Linked DNA regions of Homo sapiens: region 1 is linked to region 2. Evidence: fine-mapped expression QTL. Tissue or cell type: unexposed skin. Region 2 holds a variant in brackets; the other region holds the start of a gene. All regions are shown on one strand. Distances are from middle to middle.

Region 1 (8,099 bases), 37 kb after region 2:
AAAATACAAAAATTACCGAGCACAGTGACAGGTGCCTGTCATCTCAGCTACTCAGGAGGCTGAGGCAGGAGAGTTGCTTGAACCCAGGAGGTGGAGGCTGCAGTGAGCTGAGATCACACCACTGCACTCCAGCCTGGGAGACAGAGCAAGACTCCATCTGGGGTGGGGGGTGCGGAAGAAGTCTGGTGTTGGTTGTTGAGTGTGGCCGTGAGAGCGGAGGAAAAAAGAATTTGAATTTTTTCTTAACACCTAGGCAATGACAACGCTCATCTGCCATAAGAATGTTCTATAAAATGCACATCTTTTACTCAAGGCAATTCTGCCCCTCAACAATGTAAGTATTTGGCTCATCTTCTACAAGCCCGACACCTGCAGCTTTGGGGTCACTGAAGGCAATATGGTTTTGGACATTTCCTGGGCGGCTGCTTTCACACAGACCTCCTCCTAGCAACCCTGAGCGGGGCAAGGCATGCAAAATGCTCAGTAAAAAAGGTTCTTTCTGCAACAAGGACTGCTGTCTGCCTGTGGCAGCACACAGGGTCCCTAGGACTGCTCAACAGAGAAACAGAGACCAGAAACCTGGGGCCAGGGAGACTGGGCAGGAGGCCAACCCAGGACAAGGGGCAGAGGGCTGCCCTAGGCCTATGGAAAGGCAATGGGGCTGCATGGACCCAGCCCCGAACATGGACCAAACTCAGTAGATGCTAACAAAACTTAAACGTGGGGCACTTTGGGAGGCCAAGGTGGGTGGACCACCTGAGATCAGGAGTTCGAGACCAGCCTGGCCAACGTGGTGAAACCCCGTCTCTACTAAAAATACAAAAAATTAGCCAGGTGTGGTGGTGGGCGTCTATAATCCCAGCTACTCGGGAGGCTGAGGCAGAAGAATTGCTTGAACCCGGGAGGCGGAGATTGCAGTGAGCTGAGATCGCAACATTGCACTCCAACCTGGGCAACAACAGCTAAACTCCAGCTCAAAAAAAAAAAAAAAAAAGCAAAACTTAAATGTAGGGTGTGCACTTTCCATGAGGCATAAAGGGGCATCATATGCTGAACCCTCAGCCTCCCAGGTGCTCTGATTCTAGAACAGCACCGACAGCCCAAAGGATGGGCATCATGGGCCCCTGTTGGTTTTAAGTGGATAGAGAAAGGAAGATGTAGCTTTTAGAGTCCTGCTTATACACATATGTAAAATAATAACGTATTTATGTGTATAAACAGGAACTTAAAAGCTGCAATGGACTGCTGTTTACTCACATTAAGACTTACAAACATGCAACCCAACACAGGGCTCGCGCCTGTCATCCCAGCACTTTGGAAGGAGGCTGAGGCAGGCAGATCACTTGAGGCCAGCAGTTTGAGACCAGCCTGGCCAACATGGTAAAACCCAGCCTCTACAAAAAGTACAAAAATTATTCGGGTGTGGTGGAACACACTTGTAATCCCAGCTGCTCGAGAGGCTGATCAGCACACAAAAATCACTTGAACCTGAGAGGCGGAGGTTGCAGTGAGCTGAGATCGTGCCACTGCACTCCAGCCTGGCCATAGAGGGAGACTCTGCCTCAAAAAAAAAAGACTAACAAATGTGCCATTTCCATTGACAAAGCAGCTTCAAGCAGCACAGCTGGAGACAGAGGTGGGCCAGGGAGAGCCAGTGTCCCTCACACACTCCCTGTCTCTACCTCCTTGGGTCAATCTCAGCATGGGGTAAGGATCTTTTGCTCTGATGGCAAAATTCAGCGTTCCAACAGTCTGGAGCTGTACAGCTGATAACTGCAGTCTTGGATGTCTAAACACAATCTTGCTTTTGGAAACTCACTCAAAATAGGATACAGGAGACGCGGAAGCTCACCTGGCCTTTCTTTTTAGTTTCATCCTAACATACTGTGTTCGGAGGGCAAATGTCTGGAGTCTGGCACAGCAGACTAGACGTCAAAGGAAAACAGTTCCTGTGTTCCAGTTTCTCAATACTTTGGCCATTGTCTAGTCTAGCCTGATCCAAGACCCCGGGCAAGACCTTTTGACAGCTTTTGACGGGCTCTCCTCCACTGCCTAACATGTTAACCCTTTCACCCAGAAGGCACTTTTACAAAGCATATTCCCATGTGCAATTTGCAGGGACATCAGGAGTTACAGCATTTGGAGATCCAGTTCCATCCATGACTTTGGACAAGGCCCTCGAATTCTGTGCCCCAGTTTCCCTATCTATAAAACGGACGTAGAAAATGTGTTATTAGACACTGCCTGCGCTTCTCTGGAGGAAAGCACTCTGCTGTTAACCCTTAAACACCCTTAGGAGATGGGCACTTATGGAAGGAAAAAAACCTCTCCGGGTGTCAGGCTCTACACCCCAGGTGGAAGTTCTTGCTCTCTGGGGGTTATCTGAGAATCTGGTGAAAACTTAGACCCTCTTCTGAAAAACATATCCCACACCACACCAAACTTAAAGAAAGTTCTGTGGGGGTGGGGAGATGCTGTGGCGGCAGATGCCGGGTTCAGATCTCCGGCTCTGCAGGCTTTTTCGGGAACGTTAACTTGAGTCAGCCACGACCTTAATTAAGATTTGAGAAAACAGAAGCCCGCCCAGGACCCTAGGAGATGCTTCTTCACTTGGGGGGGCTACAACAGAGCCCTCGCGAGCATCCTGCAGCTTCGGACCACCGGCGGCAAACAAAGCCCGAGCACCGCTCAGCCGGGGGGCTTCCCCGACCTCGGGGGAGGGCTCTGCGGAGCATGCGCGGCGGCCGTCAGGCCCCGCCCCCCCCGGGCGCCGGAGCCGAGGCGGCGGGAACCTCAAAGCCCCGGCGCAAACGGCCGCTCCCCGCAGAGCGCCGGCCGCCCCCTCCCCGCGGCGCCCGGGCGCAGCGGCGGCCACGGACGTGTGGGGCCCGCTGGCCGCCCCCTCTTCCAGGCCGGGCGAACTTACCGAGGTCCCCTTTCCCGGGGCGGGGGGGGAGGGGCGCAGAGGGAGCTGTGGGGGCGGGGCCATGACCCCCTCGTGCGGGCTTCGGCCGCCCCTCCCCCGCCGCGGGCCCGGGCGCGCGCCCCAACCGCCAACCGCCCGCGCGGTGCCCGGGGTCGGGTAGGCCGCGGGCCGCGCGCCCCGTACCGAGCCCTTTTGTTGCGCGGAGGCGGAGGCAATGATTCAGCCCGCGGCCTGCGCCGGCCCGGCCGCCGGGAGGGAGCGTGACGCGAGGCGGCCCCCGGCTGGAACGCGCGCCGTGCCGCGTCGCTGAGCCCGCCGGCCCCGGCCCTGCGCCCACCCGTCTACCCTGACCCTCACTCACGACGCGCTCCTTGGTGTGCTCGGGTTCGGTGATGACCACGGCCGCGCCGCCCGCCTTGCCTGCTGTCGCCGGCCGCGCCGCGCGCTTGCCCCCGCCGGGGGCCCCGTCGAGCTCCAGGCCGTCCTCGTCGCCGCTGCTGCCGCCGCCGCTGCTGCTACTGCAGCGCTCGGGCCGCTCGCGCTTCCTGCCCGCCGGGCCGCCGCGTTTCCTGGGCCCGGCGCGGGCAGTGCCGTTGCCCGAGCTCGGCTCCTCCCAGGCCGCCGCCGCCGCCTTCTTCCTGGGCATGGTCGCGGCTGGAGGGAGACACGGGGCAGCGGCGCACAATGGACGGGTTATAAACTGCGCGGGGGGAGGGGAGCGGAGACGAGCCACCCGGCCTCCACTTCCTCCTCTGCCCTCCCCAAAGTGGCGGCCGCAGGGTGGGCGGAGAGGGGGCGAGTTGGGAGAGGAAATCGCGCCCCTCCCTGGCCCCGGCGCGGCTCCTTCGGGGAATCCCGCAGGGCAGCCGGGAGCCCCAGAGGCAATCCCCTGGAGGGAGAATTGAGACCCCCGGCCTATCCGTAAGTTAGGTTTGCCCACAAAGCATCACAGTTGCAACCTCGCCCCCCAAAAGTAAAGGGAAAGTAAAACCAGCCTCCAGTCCCCTAGATTTTCATTAAAGAAGGCTTCGGGACACTTCCAGGATTCCCCCTTGGCACCTGGGTGGTAAGGGAGCCCCTGCTCCCCGGCTACCCCACCTGCTGCTTTTGTCTCCGCAGTCTCCCCCCAAACCCACTCATGGCATTTAATGCAACGCTCTCCCCCACCCCGCATCAGCCCTGGACCCCCGTTCGGCCCCAGCTCAGGGGTGCCGACCTCGGGCTCTAGTTAGCCGAATCCCTACGGCGGACTGCCCCCGGCGACGGGGGAAGAGCCCGAAGAAAGCTGGACCCCAGCCCCAAACACCTGCTCGCACAGACACGAAAAATAAAAACTTTAATGGTGCCCAACTCTCTCCCAGCCCCCTTGCCGGCCGTGCGGCCCGGCCGGTCTCCGATTCGACTGCAAAGTGTCCAGGGCCGCCGCCAGCTCCCCGGCGTCCCTGCGCTCTCCCCTGTCTGCTTTTTTTTTTTTTTTTAATTGATTTTGAACAATGGGATCTCTGTCTGTCTCCGATTAAACCACGTGGATCCGCCTTCCTTCCTCTTTTTATTCCTTCAATCACCCAGCCCCCCTCCCCCAGGTTTTTTTTTAACCTTTTCTCTTTAAAAAAAGGAAAAAAAAAAAAACTTTCCCAGACCCCACAAACTGATCACTGTCGATTTTCAGACCCTACCTGGTTGGAGTGATGAGAAACCGGAGAGAAAAAAGGAAGAGAAGCAACTAAAAGACGGATCGGAGGGCTTTTTTTTTTCCGGCCCAGACGAGGGCTCCAGCCCACTCACCAGATACACTTAAAATGTAAATACGAGCTTCCAGAACAAATGCTACAACACAAAACAGAAACACATGTGCGGCCGCGCGGCAAGCGAGCGCGCGGCGGGGCGGGAGGCGCGGGGCGCGGGGCGCGCGCGCCCCCTGCCGGCCGGCGGACCCGTTGCCGGCGCCCCCGCCCCGCCCGGCCTGGCCCTGCCCTGCCCACCCGAGCCTGCGCCGCGCGCCGCGCGCCTCGCCGCCCGCCTCGGCTCCGCTGCTCCTGCGCCTTTCGCGGGCCCGCGAGCGCGCTTTGGGCCTTCCACGCAGTGCGGCCTGCGCGTCAGGGACTTCTTTGCGGCTTAGGAGGATGTTGGATTGTTTTTCCTGGGCACGTCTAGACAGGTCACATGAGGACACTCGCTGGAAAATAGTTACTTCGCTCACGCAGCAGCCAACAAGGGACGTGCCCTAATTGAGTGATTGGAATGAAAGATGAATACAATTTGAATAATTTTTTCCTGTGCAGAGAGAAGCTGAGTTTTATTTGCCTGTGGATGTGTCCTCAGTATGTAACAAGGTGCTGTGACACGGAAGAATCACATAAAGGTTTGCTGTATTAGTGAATTAATTCATAATTAATTTGAGGGCCGTGGAGGCACTGGAAGCTGGCTTTGAGGGGAACTTTTTCATTTTTTGCCAAATATTTACTGAGCCCCCGGTACATGCAAGACCCACAGTGCCCGGGGCTGCAGAGCCAGTGAACAAGGTTTCCACCCCAGTGGAACGCACAGCCTAACGGAAAGACAGATCAGTAAACAAGTAATTACAACAGTGGTAAGCTTTACAAAGTGATGCCTGTGTAGGAACATTATGGCGAGGGGATTTATCCTAGTCCAGGGCCAGGGAAGGCATTCAGGTGGAAAGTTATGCTGAACAACTTAAAGGATGAATAAGACCCGATGAAAGGGGGCAGGAAAAGTATTCCAGGCCAGGTGGAGTGAACGGGACGCTCCACATTTCGAGATCTTGAGAGACACCTCCTGGGAGGGAAGCTGTCTGGTGGGGCTGGGGTGAGAAGAGCCAAGAGGCTGGGTTCTGAGGAGGTAGGCAGGGGTGCGAGGGCCTGCATAGACCCTAGTGAACCGCAGTGAGGCTTGATCTCGTTCGCGTGTCCTGGGACGGGTGAAAAAAGCCTTGCTTGCTTCCTACCGGTCTCCACCCTCCACCTCTCCACCCCACTTCCATTACGATCTCACCGTCACTTGCTCTCCTCTCAAAGCTTTTCTCCTGCTTCTTTTTTCCTGAGGCGTACCGCACAAGGAAGTTCCTTCTTCAGGCAACTTCTTGAAAACGCATAAAGTTCTAGGATTTTTGTGATTCATTCATTCATTGTTAGTGCAAGAAACAGGACTGGGAAGCATCAAGTGTCCTGTAAAGGAAGACAGAGAAACCAAGAGGCCCAAATCTAAGGTATTTGATCAAAGTCAAAAGTCTGTGTGTCAAGAGAGCTGAGAGTGCTTATGTAAAAGAACTTTGGAAATGAGAAATCAACTGGTACGTTTCAGAGATTTTCAGAAAAGTCAAGATGGAATAGAAGCACCCTTTGAAAGCCTATTCTTAATAGACCTGCATTTAAAAAGATTTTTTAGAGGTTAAACTTTGACGCTTTGATATAAAGCATAAGTAGAACCAACCAGAAAAGAATTTCGCCTAAATATGCCATCAAGTCCCCTTCAGGAAATGGCATGCTGATGCTTGTCAGCCGAGGCGGGTGGCTGGGTGTTTATCCTCTAAACACCCTGTGTGGCCAATTAGGAACACCACTGACAGTACCTTTAGATTTCAGTCTGCAAGTCTTTTCCTTTTTTCTCCTGCCCCTTTATAATGCTTTTTGCCAGCTTAAAAGACTCATGCCTCAGACACACTGATGCAATGAGACGCTAATATCATATTGCATCATCTGATCCTAGGTGTGGTGCTCCTGAAACTGGTTTTTCTTGAGGTTATGCTGCAGTAGAAAAGCACTTTGGGTATAACACCCTGGAACTGGCCCTACTTGTCAGAAGACAAAAGTAATTTTTGCAACTCCATGCCTCAATTCCACACCACTATTCTCCCAGGGAAAGCCTGCGTGACTCTCCCGGCTGGAATTGGGTGTGCAACAGACATTCATCAGTTAGGCGTGTCATGCTGCCACTTATGTAACAAATGTTACATAGTGAGGTGCACCTACAGGCAAGCTGAAAATGACACTTCCTCCTTCAAACTGTGCTTGGAATTTCACCTCGCTTCTAATTGAGCAAATTCTCCAGGGACAGGATGGTTTGGTGCAAAACCGGGAGAGGGGAAGGGAAAGAAGGTGGCTGAGATTTCTCTGACACTTTGAGGCACAGGTGTCTGGCACTGTGCTGAGCATTTTACACCCAGAATTTTGGAAATGTGGCTGCAAGTGCCAGCCTGCCGTCACTCTTTAACCTCATCTTCAGCAAAATCATATTGCAAGTTAGATTCAGCTACGCTTAAGTTCTTTTCCAGGGGTGAGGTGTGATTTTTTCTTTCTTTTTTTTTTTTTTTTTTTTATTTTTTTAGATAGAATCTTGCTCCTCCAGCACCCAGGCTGAAGGGTGATGGTATGATCCCAGCTTACTGCAGCCTCTACCTTCCTTGCTCAAGCGATCCTCTCGCTTCAGCCTCCCAAGTAGCTGAGACCACAGGCATGGACAGCTACACTTGGCTAAATTTTTTTTCTTTTTTAATGTTTTGTAGAGACAAGGTCTCTCTCTGTTGCCCAGGCTGGTCTCGAGTGGTCCTCCCACCTCAGCCTCCCAAAGTTGCGGGATTATAGGGGTGAGCCACTGTGCACAGCCTCAGAAGTATAATTCATTTTTTTTTTTCTTTTGAGGTGGGGTCTCGCACTGTCACCCGGGCTGGAGTGCAGTGGTGGCAACCTCCACCTCCCAGGTTCAAGCAGTCTCCTGCCTCAGCCTCCCAAGTAGCTGGGATTACAGGCGCATACCACCACGCCTAGCTAATTTTGTATTTTTAGTAGAGACGGGGTTTCACCATGTTGGCCAGGCTGGTCTTGAACTTCTGACCTCGTGATTTGCCCGCCTTCGCCTCCCAAAGTGCTAGGATTACAGGCGTGAGCCACTGTGCCCAGCCTCAGAAGTGTAATTCTATTCAACTTGGCTACAGAAAGCTACACCTGTACTTGAAAGATTAATTTTCTGATCCAGTGTCTATAAAAATGAAACCAGTGATCCTGGGAGTGATGCGCTAACCAATGGAAACGATTCTTTCTCTTTTTTTTTTTTTGGAAACTGGGTCTCACTCTGTCACCTAGGCTGGACTGTAGTGGCGCCATCTTGGCTCACTACAGCCTCGACCTCCTGGGGTCAAACAGTTCTCCTGCCTCAG
Region 2 (8,093 bases):
AAAACTGCTTCTCTCACTGGGTCCTTAACATTCCCAGGAATGTTCCCAAGGAATGTTCTATGCCCCGCACAGTGCATGGGTACCCTGTTTTGCAAGAACAGCCCCCCTGGCATAGCAGGGTGGGTGCCAGCCAGGCATGGGGCTGAGACAGCATCTCCCAGCCCCTGGCGACAGCTTAGGTGTGTTGGGTATGTGTCTGAAGCCTATTTCAAGACCTAGGGAGACAGGTGTGTTGGGTTATGTCTGAAGCCTATTTCAAGACCTAGGGAGATGCCTGGGTATTGGGCTCAGCTGGTCTGGGTTGAGAAGTGCCAGACGCTGTCTAGCCATGGGATCCTGGACTAAAGACTAGGCCATTCCTGAGCCCCTACTTCCCCATGTGAAAAGGGAACTGCCTATTTCGTAAGGCTGGTATGAAGTGTGAGGCTCCTGGCACACAGCAAGTGATGGGGATGGTAGTGGTGTCAGGCCATCACCTACCTTCAGTATGGAAGGAAACTGGTTTTAATTCCTGATGAGCTCTCCTTGCTCCCCCGCCCCCCCCCCCACCCACCCACCCACCCACAGAAGTGCATTCACCTGAACCGTGACATCCTGAAGACGGAGCTGGGCCTGGTGGAACAGGACATCATCGAGATTCCCCAGCTGTTCTGCTTGGAGAAGCTGACTAACATCCCCTCTGACCAGCAGCCCAAGAGGTCCTTTGCGAGGCCATACTTCCCTGACCTGGTGAGGGGCGACTGCGCATCCCTGGGTGGGGGAGGGCCTGTCCAGGCAACACTGGCTGCCACCTCACTGTGCTGGACTGCAGATATGGTGGACAGCAGATAACGGTACCTATGAGGAAATGGGAGGGAGACCCCTTCTCCCCCATCTCGGTTAGGGACGCCCCACCCAGAGAGCAAGTGTACAGGGCCTGAAGGCTTGGAGGTTCCCCAGGCAGTTACTATGGGCCAGGCCCTGGGCCAGGTGCTTTAGGAGCCTCAGTGAGCTGCGCCCCCAGTCTAAAAGGGTGAACCTGTGAGGCCCACTTCGGATGGGGTGCTATGCAACCCAGAGTCGAGGTTGCCGCGCATCTGCCAGCAGCGAGGCCTTGAGCAACCTACCTCAGGGTGGGTCTTCCTGTCCGCTATCTCCAGGGTCCAGGGCAGCAGTGTCTGATACATAGAGGTACATCAGCCCTTAAAATAACATTCTAGGCCAGGCGCAGTGGCTCATGCCTGTAATCCCAACACTTTGGGAGGCCGAGGCAGGTGGATCACCTGAGGTCAGGAGTTTGAGACCAGCCTGACCAACATGAAGAAACCCTGTCTCTAAAAATACAAAATTAGTTGGGTGTGGTAGCACATGCCTGTAATCCCAGCTACTCAGGAGGCAGAGACAGGAGAATTGCTTGAACCCCGGAGACAGAGGTTGCATTGAGCCTAGATCACTCCATTGCACTCCAGCCTGGGCAACAAGACTGAAACTCCGTCTCTAATATTTATTCTGCTTGGCTGGTCGTGGTGGCTCACCTGTAGTTCTAGTACGTTGGGAGGCTGAGGTGGGAAGATCACTTGAACTCAGGAGTTGGAGAGCAGCTAGGGCAACATAGTGAGACCCTGCAACTTTAAAAAAAAGAAAAAAAAAATGCTGGGGCCAGGGTGCAGTGGCTCATGCCCGTAATCTCAGCACTTTGGGAGGCTGAGGTGGGTGGATCACTTGAAGTCTGAAGTTCGAGATCAGCCCTGCAAACATGGTTGAAACTCTCTAGTAAGAATACAAAAAACTAGCTGGGTGTGGTGGTGCATGCCTATAATCCCAGCTAATCAGAGGCTGAAGCAGGAGGATCCCTTGAACCCAGGAGGCAGAGGTTGCAGTGAGCCAAGATTGCACCACTGGACTCCAGCCTGGGCAACAGCAAGACTGTCTCCCAAAAAAACAAACAAAACAAAACAAAAAATGCTGGGTGTGGTGCCACATGCCTGTAGTCTCAGCCACTCAGGAGGCTGAGGCAGGACAATTTCTTGAGCCCCGGAGGTGGAGGCTACAATGAGCCACTGCACTCTAGCCTGGGTAACAAACCAAGACCTTGTCTGATAAACCAAACCAAAAAAAAAAAAAAACATTCTGGGGCTGGGCGTGGTGTCTTACACCTGTAATCCCAGCACTTTGGGAGGCCCAGGCAGGCAGATCACTTGAGGTCAGGACTGCGAGACCAGCCTTACATGGAGAAACTGTCTTTACCAAAAATACAAAATTAGCCAGGTGTAGTGGTGCATGCCTGTCATCCCAGCTACTCAGGAGGCTGAGGCAGGAGAATCGCTTGAACCTGGGAGGTGGAGGTTGCAGTGAGCGGAGATCACCCTGTTGCACTCCAGCCTGGGCAACAAGAGCAAAACTGTTTTGTTTTTTTGTTTGTTTGTTTTTGTTTTTTAAATTCTGTTCCTACTTATTCTAAACCAGAAGTTATAGTCAAGAGTGGGGCTGTGAGTACAAGAGGTCCTGGCTTCACCAAGCCTATGCCGACTGTGGCTCACATCTGAACTTTCTCATGTAACAACTGACCCCTTATATAGGTGTGTAAAATGAACTGAGGCATTTGAGTGCCCCAATTCTCTAAACACCTGCTGACCTCTTCCCTGGGTCCTAGGGACACAGGCCCTGCATGCTCCAATTGTACATGGGTGTCTTCTAACTTGATCAGCTCAGTGTGGTCCGGCAGGGGTGAGTAACGGTAAGAAGCTGCTTTGAGGAGGAGTTGAGATACAAAAGATGCGCAGCAGTCAACTGACAAAGCGGGGGTGGGGAGAGTGTTTCAGTGGAGGCAGCAGCCATGTGTTGTATCCAGGTGACAAGAGGCCAGAATAATCGAAACGTAGAAACTAGAGAAGTTGACAATCCCAGACCTTGGCCAGGCAGGATTTTATCTGGCTGTTGAGAAACAGCCATTGTAGGGCTAAGCAAAAGTGAGCTGGGTTTCACTGACCTGGAGGAGGCGGCTGCCTGCCTGCTACGCCTGGTCTGACCGCAGAGAGGCAGGTGGGCGGCTGGCTTTCAGGCCTCTGATCCCTGTCCAGGCCTCACCCACCCTGTCTTTCTAACAGTTGCGGATGATTGTGATGGGCAAGAACCTGGGGATCCCCAAGCCTTTTGGGCCCCAAATCAAGGGGACCTGCTGCCTGGAAGAAAAGATTTGCTGCTTGCTGGAGCCCCTGGGCTTCAAGTGCACCTTCATCAATGACTTTGACTGTTACCTGACAGAG[G/A]TCGGAGACATCTGTGCCTGTGCCAACATCCGCCGGGTGCCCTTTGCCTTCAAATGGTGGAAGATGGTACCTTAGACCCAGGCCCTGGAGCTGCCAGCTCTGCCCCAGCGTGGATGGCCCACTGTCACCATGCAACAGCATGATTCTTTGCCCAGTAGAGGAGGCTGGAGAGTCCAGGCAACAGAACCCTTTCTTCCCTGTCTGCCCCGACCGACCCTCGGACCCAGTAGGATGGCAAATGCCGCCAGCTTGAACCCCTATGGGGAAAAGATGCAAAAGTGTTCAGCCAAGTGACGTTTACTAAATAGCCAATAAAGGGCTGGTGGGTGTGAATGCATCTTGGCAGTGACCTCCTTGTTTGGGGAGGGGATAAGTGACAACTGAGGACAAGGCTGAGCTGAGATACCTATGGCCATGCTGGCCTGCTTGTGTGGGGGGAGAGACTTGGCTACATCAGTTGCTGTCCTTCCCCTCATCTCTAAATTATGTCGTGGCAGGAAGTGGTTGGACTTATCCAAATGGACTTAGATTATCCAAATGGATTTAAGATTATCCAAATGCTGCTCTGGTTTAAGCAACTGGGACAAGCTGGGTCTAGAGTCCAGGGCCCAGGCTAGAGGAAGGTCGAGGGCCTCCCCCTTGGGACTGGTAGGACCTGGAGGGGGCAGGCCCACGGTGGGGGTGGTGCCATGCACGGCAGGCAGCTGGCCTCAGCAAGTGGAGGCTCTGGTCTCCTTGGGTCTGTAGGTGTGGCCTCTTTGAGAAGGCACAGCAGGGGTGGACCTGGGCTGACCCTCAGCCTGAAATGTCCCCTCCAGGGCCCAAAGCCACATATTCCCATCTGACCACCCCTGTGTTAATGGTACAGGGATGCTGTTAAGCTTTAACTGGCGCTGTGGCTCCCACCCTGCTCCTCCTGGATGATGATGACTCTAGGACACTCTAATCCTCAGGGTAGAACCTGAGAAGGGAGCCCTGTGTCCATGTCCCACAGGGAGTTGAAGGCAGAGCTGGGCCTCAAACTAGCCCCCTTCCTAACACCTGGGGCTCTGTGGGCAGCAGGCAGGACCTGGCCAGCCTCTGCCAGCTGCTGGGGCAGTGGAGGAGGGTCATCCTAAGGAAGCGAGGCAGAAGCCAGGGTTGGGGCAGCAGGGCTGGTCTCTGGATCAGATGTGGGTTTTTATCCAAGAGCTGTGCCCTGGTGTGCCAGCTACCCCAGGACATCTTACGACATCTCGTTAACCTGCCCATGGTGGTGCAGAGTTTATGGACTACACTAGAGACCTCTTGTTGTATTCATGGCTCTGACCCCTATACCAGCCTGGGACTGACACAGACCAGGCCTTCAAATATGGGGAGGGATGGATGAGCTCATCTGCATTTTCAGATAGTCTAGAAAAGCCAAAAGAAATAGAGGACTCTGGACCCCAAGGGCTTGGGGCTCCATCTCTAGGGAAAAAGGGGAGAGGAAAGCCCTAGGGCCAGAAGGGGGACAAAAGGTTCACTCTTCCACCCCCATGGGCTTTTCCCAGGGAACTTGCCCACCTCTACCAAGGGCTGCCTTAGGGTGGATGAATTGGTCCCTCCTCTGACCCTAACTAGACCCTCACCCAGAGCTTTTCAGGTCAGCCCTGGGCCCCTCCCGCCCCACCTGCCTAAGGGTCCTGCAGGAAATCTTGGCAGCTTGACACCCTTCTCTCCTGTTACCTCCCAGGCAGCACCATCCTGATAGCACCTGGAGAAGCACCCCCCCAGCCCTGGCTGTTAGCAGACACCTGCAGCAGAGAGCTGGGTGTACTTGGCTTGCACAGTGTTATAAACGTCTCTAAGTTAGGCACTGACAATTTACTCAAAGTCTGGATTTCCAGCTCCTGCTGCCAAGTCTTTAGACCTGACCACACTGGGCCCGAGGCTGAAGACTCACTGGCCACACCCTCTAGACAAAGATGTGCTCCAACAGGCCCCAGTCCCCATCCCTCCCCACTGTGTTCCCCTGCAAAGGTCAGTGGTCATTTGGCGCCATGCTTGCACTACTGCTGTAGGGAAGGAGAGGAAATGCTCCCTGTACTGGCCAAAGGCAAGAAAACAAGGTAAGTGGGCTCTGTGCCTCAGTTTCCTCACCAGCGCAAGTGGGTAAGAGTTGTGCCTGTCTCGAGGTTGTTCTGAGGACTGGAGTTATTTACATAAAGCCCTAGAAAGACACGTGGCACCTCTCATTCCTGAAGGCTGGGAGACCACATCTCTGTAGAAGTAAACAAAACCCTCCATTGCCTGCATAGCAGACACGGGGCCAGGCGCAGTGGCTCATGCCTGCAATCCCAGCACTTTGGGAGGCTGAGGCAGGTGGATCATTTGAGGCCAGGGCTTCAAGGCCAGCCAGGCCAACATGGGGAAACCCCGTCTCTACTAAAAATGCAAAAATTAGTCGGGGCATTGTGGCATGCACCTGTAATCCCAGCTACTTGGGAGGCTGAGTGGCTGAGTTGAGAGAATCACTTGAACCCAGGAGGCAGAGGCTCCAAGATCATGCCACCGCACTCCAGCCTGGGCAACAGAGTGAGACTTCGTCTCAAAAAAAAAAAGAACAAAAATCACAGGAAATGCTGGCGGGGTGGGGGGTGGGTGGGAGAGTGCTGGGGACCCAGTGTGGGGGCAGCTGAGGGTTTTGGAGATTCCAGCCCTCCCATGTGCCTCCCAACCTGCAACAGGCCATCTTTTAGTTCTCTAGAGGCACCGAGTCCTCTCCCCTCCAGGCTGCTTCAGTGCCCAGAATGCTTTTAGCAGGGGGCGACCCCCATTTCCCTTCCAAAGCCTTGAAGGGGCTGTTCCTGTCTCCCCTTCCCTCCTCCCTGCATCCCTGCCTACTGAGTCCTCCCAGTCTGGAGAGTGGGCTCCATTGCTATTGTCTGGTGTGAACACCAGCTAAGCTGGATCCTGAGACCCTCCAGCTTGACCATCCCGCGTGGCGCTTCCGCAGGTCCCCGCCCTTCAATGTGGGGCTGGGGCAGGTGTTCGGGGCAAAGCAGGGCTGGGTAGGAACCGGCAAGTCCCCTTCCCCATTCGCCATCCTTCCAGCCCTTTTCACTCTTCCCTGGGAGCTTAAGGAGCCGCTTAGTGTGGAGGACATTGGCCAGAAAGGCTGCTGGCTTGACGGGGCAGGACAATAGCAGGAGGCAGCAGCTTTGCAGGTGAGAAAACCCCAGAGCCAAAGGCCGGGCACGGTGGCTCATGCCTGTAATCCTAGCACTTCGGGAGGCTGAGGTAGTGGGAGGAATCACCTGAGTTCAAGAGTTCAAGACCAGTCTGGTCAACATGGTGAAACCTCATCTCTACTAAAAATACAAAGAAATTAGCCGGGTGTGGTGGCCTGTGCCTGTAATCTTAGCTATTCAGGAGGCTGAGGCAGGAGAATTACTTGAACCTGGGAGGAGGAGGTTGCGGGGAGCCAAGATTGTGACACTGCACTCCAGCCTGGGGGACATTAAAAAAAAAAAACCTCCAGAGCCGCCCGTGGGGAGCCTGCCTTCTCTGCCCCCCCGACTTCAGGAGGCTTCTCCCATCCCCCAGCCACAGGCCTGGCAGGCCCCGGCTGCTCTGTATTGGCCACCTACACTGCCCCTGGAAGGGCAGGTGAAGGTCTCCTGGATGTTCTCGAAGCTCTCAAGACAGCCCCTCCAGGGTGGCCACAGGTCACATGGGCTCCCTGTCCTCAGCCAGGGGCAGGCTGGGGGAGCAGGGGAGGCCATCTTTGTTACTAGGATCTTTGTGGTTCCAGGCACAGGTCTTCCTACCCGCCCCACTGTGTCCCTCAGCCAAAGCCATTTTCTCTCTGCACCCCACTTCCCTCTATAACACAGGAATAAAAAACAAACAGCCTTCCCTTCAAGACTGCCTGTGTGGCCGGGCGTGGTGGCTCACGCCTGTAATCCTAGCACTTTGGGAGGCTGAAGCGGGCAGATCACTTGAGGTCAGTTTGAGACCAGCCTGGCCAACATGGTGAAACCCCGTCTCTACTAAAAATACAAAAATTAGCAGGGCGTGGTGGCACTTGCCTGTAATCCCAGCTACTCAGGAGGCCGAGGCAGAATTGCTTGAACCCAGGAGGCAGAGGTTGCAGTAAGCAGAGATCACACCACTGCACTCCAGCCTGGGCGACAGAGCAAAGCTCCATCTCAAAAATACAAGACCGAGCGCGGTGGCTCATGCCTGTAATCCCAGCACTTTGGGAGGCGGCCAAGGTGGGAGGATCACGAGGTCAGGAGTTCGGGACCAGCCTGGACAACATGGTGAAACCCCATCTCTACTAAAAATACAAAAATTAGCCAGGCATGTGGTGGACACCTGTAATCCCAGCTACTCAGGAGGCTGAGGCAGGAGAATCGCTTGAACCCAGGAGGCAGAGGTTGCAGTGAGCTGCGATTATGCCACTGCACTCCAGCCTGGGTGAAAGAAACTCAGTCTCCAAAAAGACTGTCGGAGTGGACTGCAGGAGTCAGGGGCGAGACACACGACACTCAATTTGCAGCATGTGCCCAATACACAACAGCCAGTGTGTCAGCAGGGACGCTGCCCCCAGCAGTGGCTTCCCTGCCCACGGGGGCTCTTCCAGGGCAGGAGCATCTGATGGGAAGCTCCAAGCTGCCAAGGGGGGAGATGGGGAAACACCGTGTTTTACATTTGGACTGTCCTGCAACAGTGCACATGCTCCTTCTGCAGCTAACAGGCCATGGGAGACCGTTTCCTCCTCTCCCAAACTGGGCCAATGCCTGCCAGGAGGGGCTGGTCTGGACACTATTCAGCCAGTCAACACAAGGTGGCCTGCACTCGAGGTTCCAGGGATCCCAGGCA

Which allele goes with the higher level. Positions count from the first base shown, and alleles are read on the strand shown. Sizes are in standard deviations (SD) of each study's normalised expression.
For the expression in unexposed skin of the gene that starts at base 4,735 in region 1, A is the high allele of the variant in region 2 and G is the other (large effect, 0.75 SD a copy in GTEx).

The links. PIP is the estimated chance that this variant, and not a neighbour inherited with it, causes the effect.
Region 1: RCC2 starts here. The variant in region 2 is fine-mapped to the expression of RCC2 in unexposed skin (GTEx, PIP 0.94).

The regions. Positions count from the first base shown.
Region 1 is chr1:17,434,943-17,443,041 of GRCh38, forward strand. It overlaps RCC2 (regulator of chromosome condensation 2), which reads right to left and starts at 4,735. Exons shown (of 13, transcript NM_018715.4): 1 at 4,603-4,735; 2 at 3,288-3,580. The coding sequence starts at 3,572. LOC124903862 (a long non-coding RNA gene) reads right to left here and starts at 6,601. Exons shown (of 2, transcript XR_007065508.1): 1 at 6,516-6,601; 2 at 5,194-6,111. RefSeq lists silencers at 3,416-3,515, 4,835-4,974.
Region 2 is chr1:17,398,119-17,406,211 of GRCh38, forward strand. PADI6 (peptidyl arginine deiminase 6) reads left to right here. Exons shown (of 16, transcript NM_207421.4): 15 at 568-729; 16 at 3,087-3,581. The coding sequence ends at 3,320. Among named protein-coding and RNA genes, the nearest start is that of PADI6, 30 kb to the left of the region's middle. RefSeq lists an enhancer at 2,717-3,653. The variant G/A (reference allele first, on the strand shown) is at 3,246.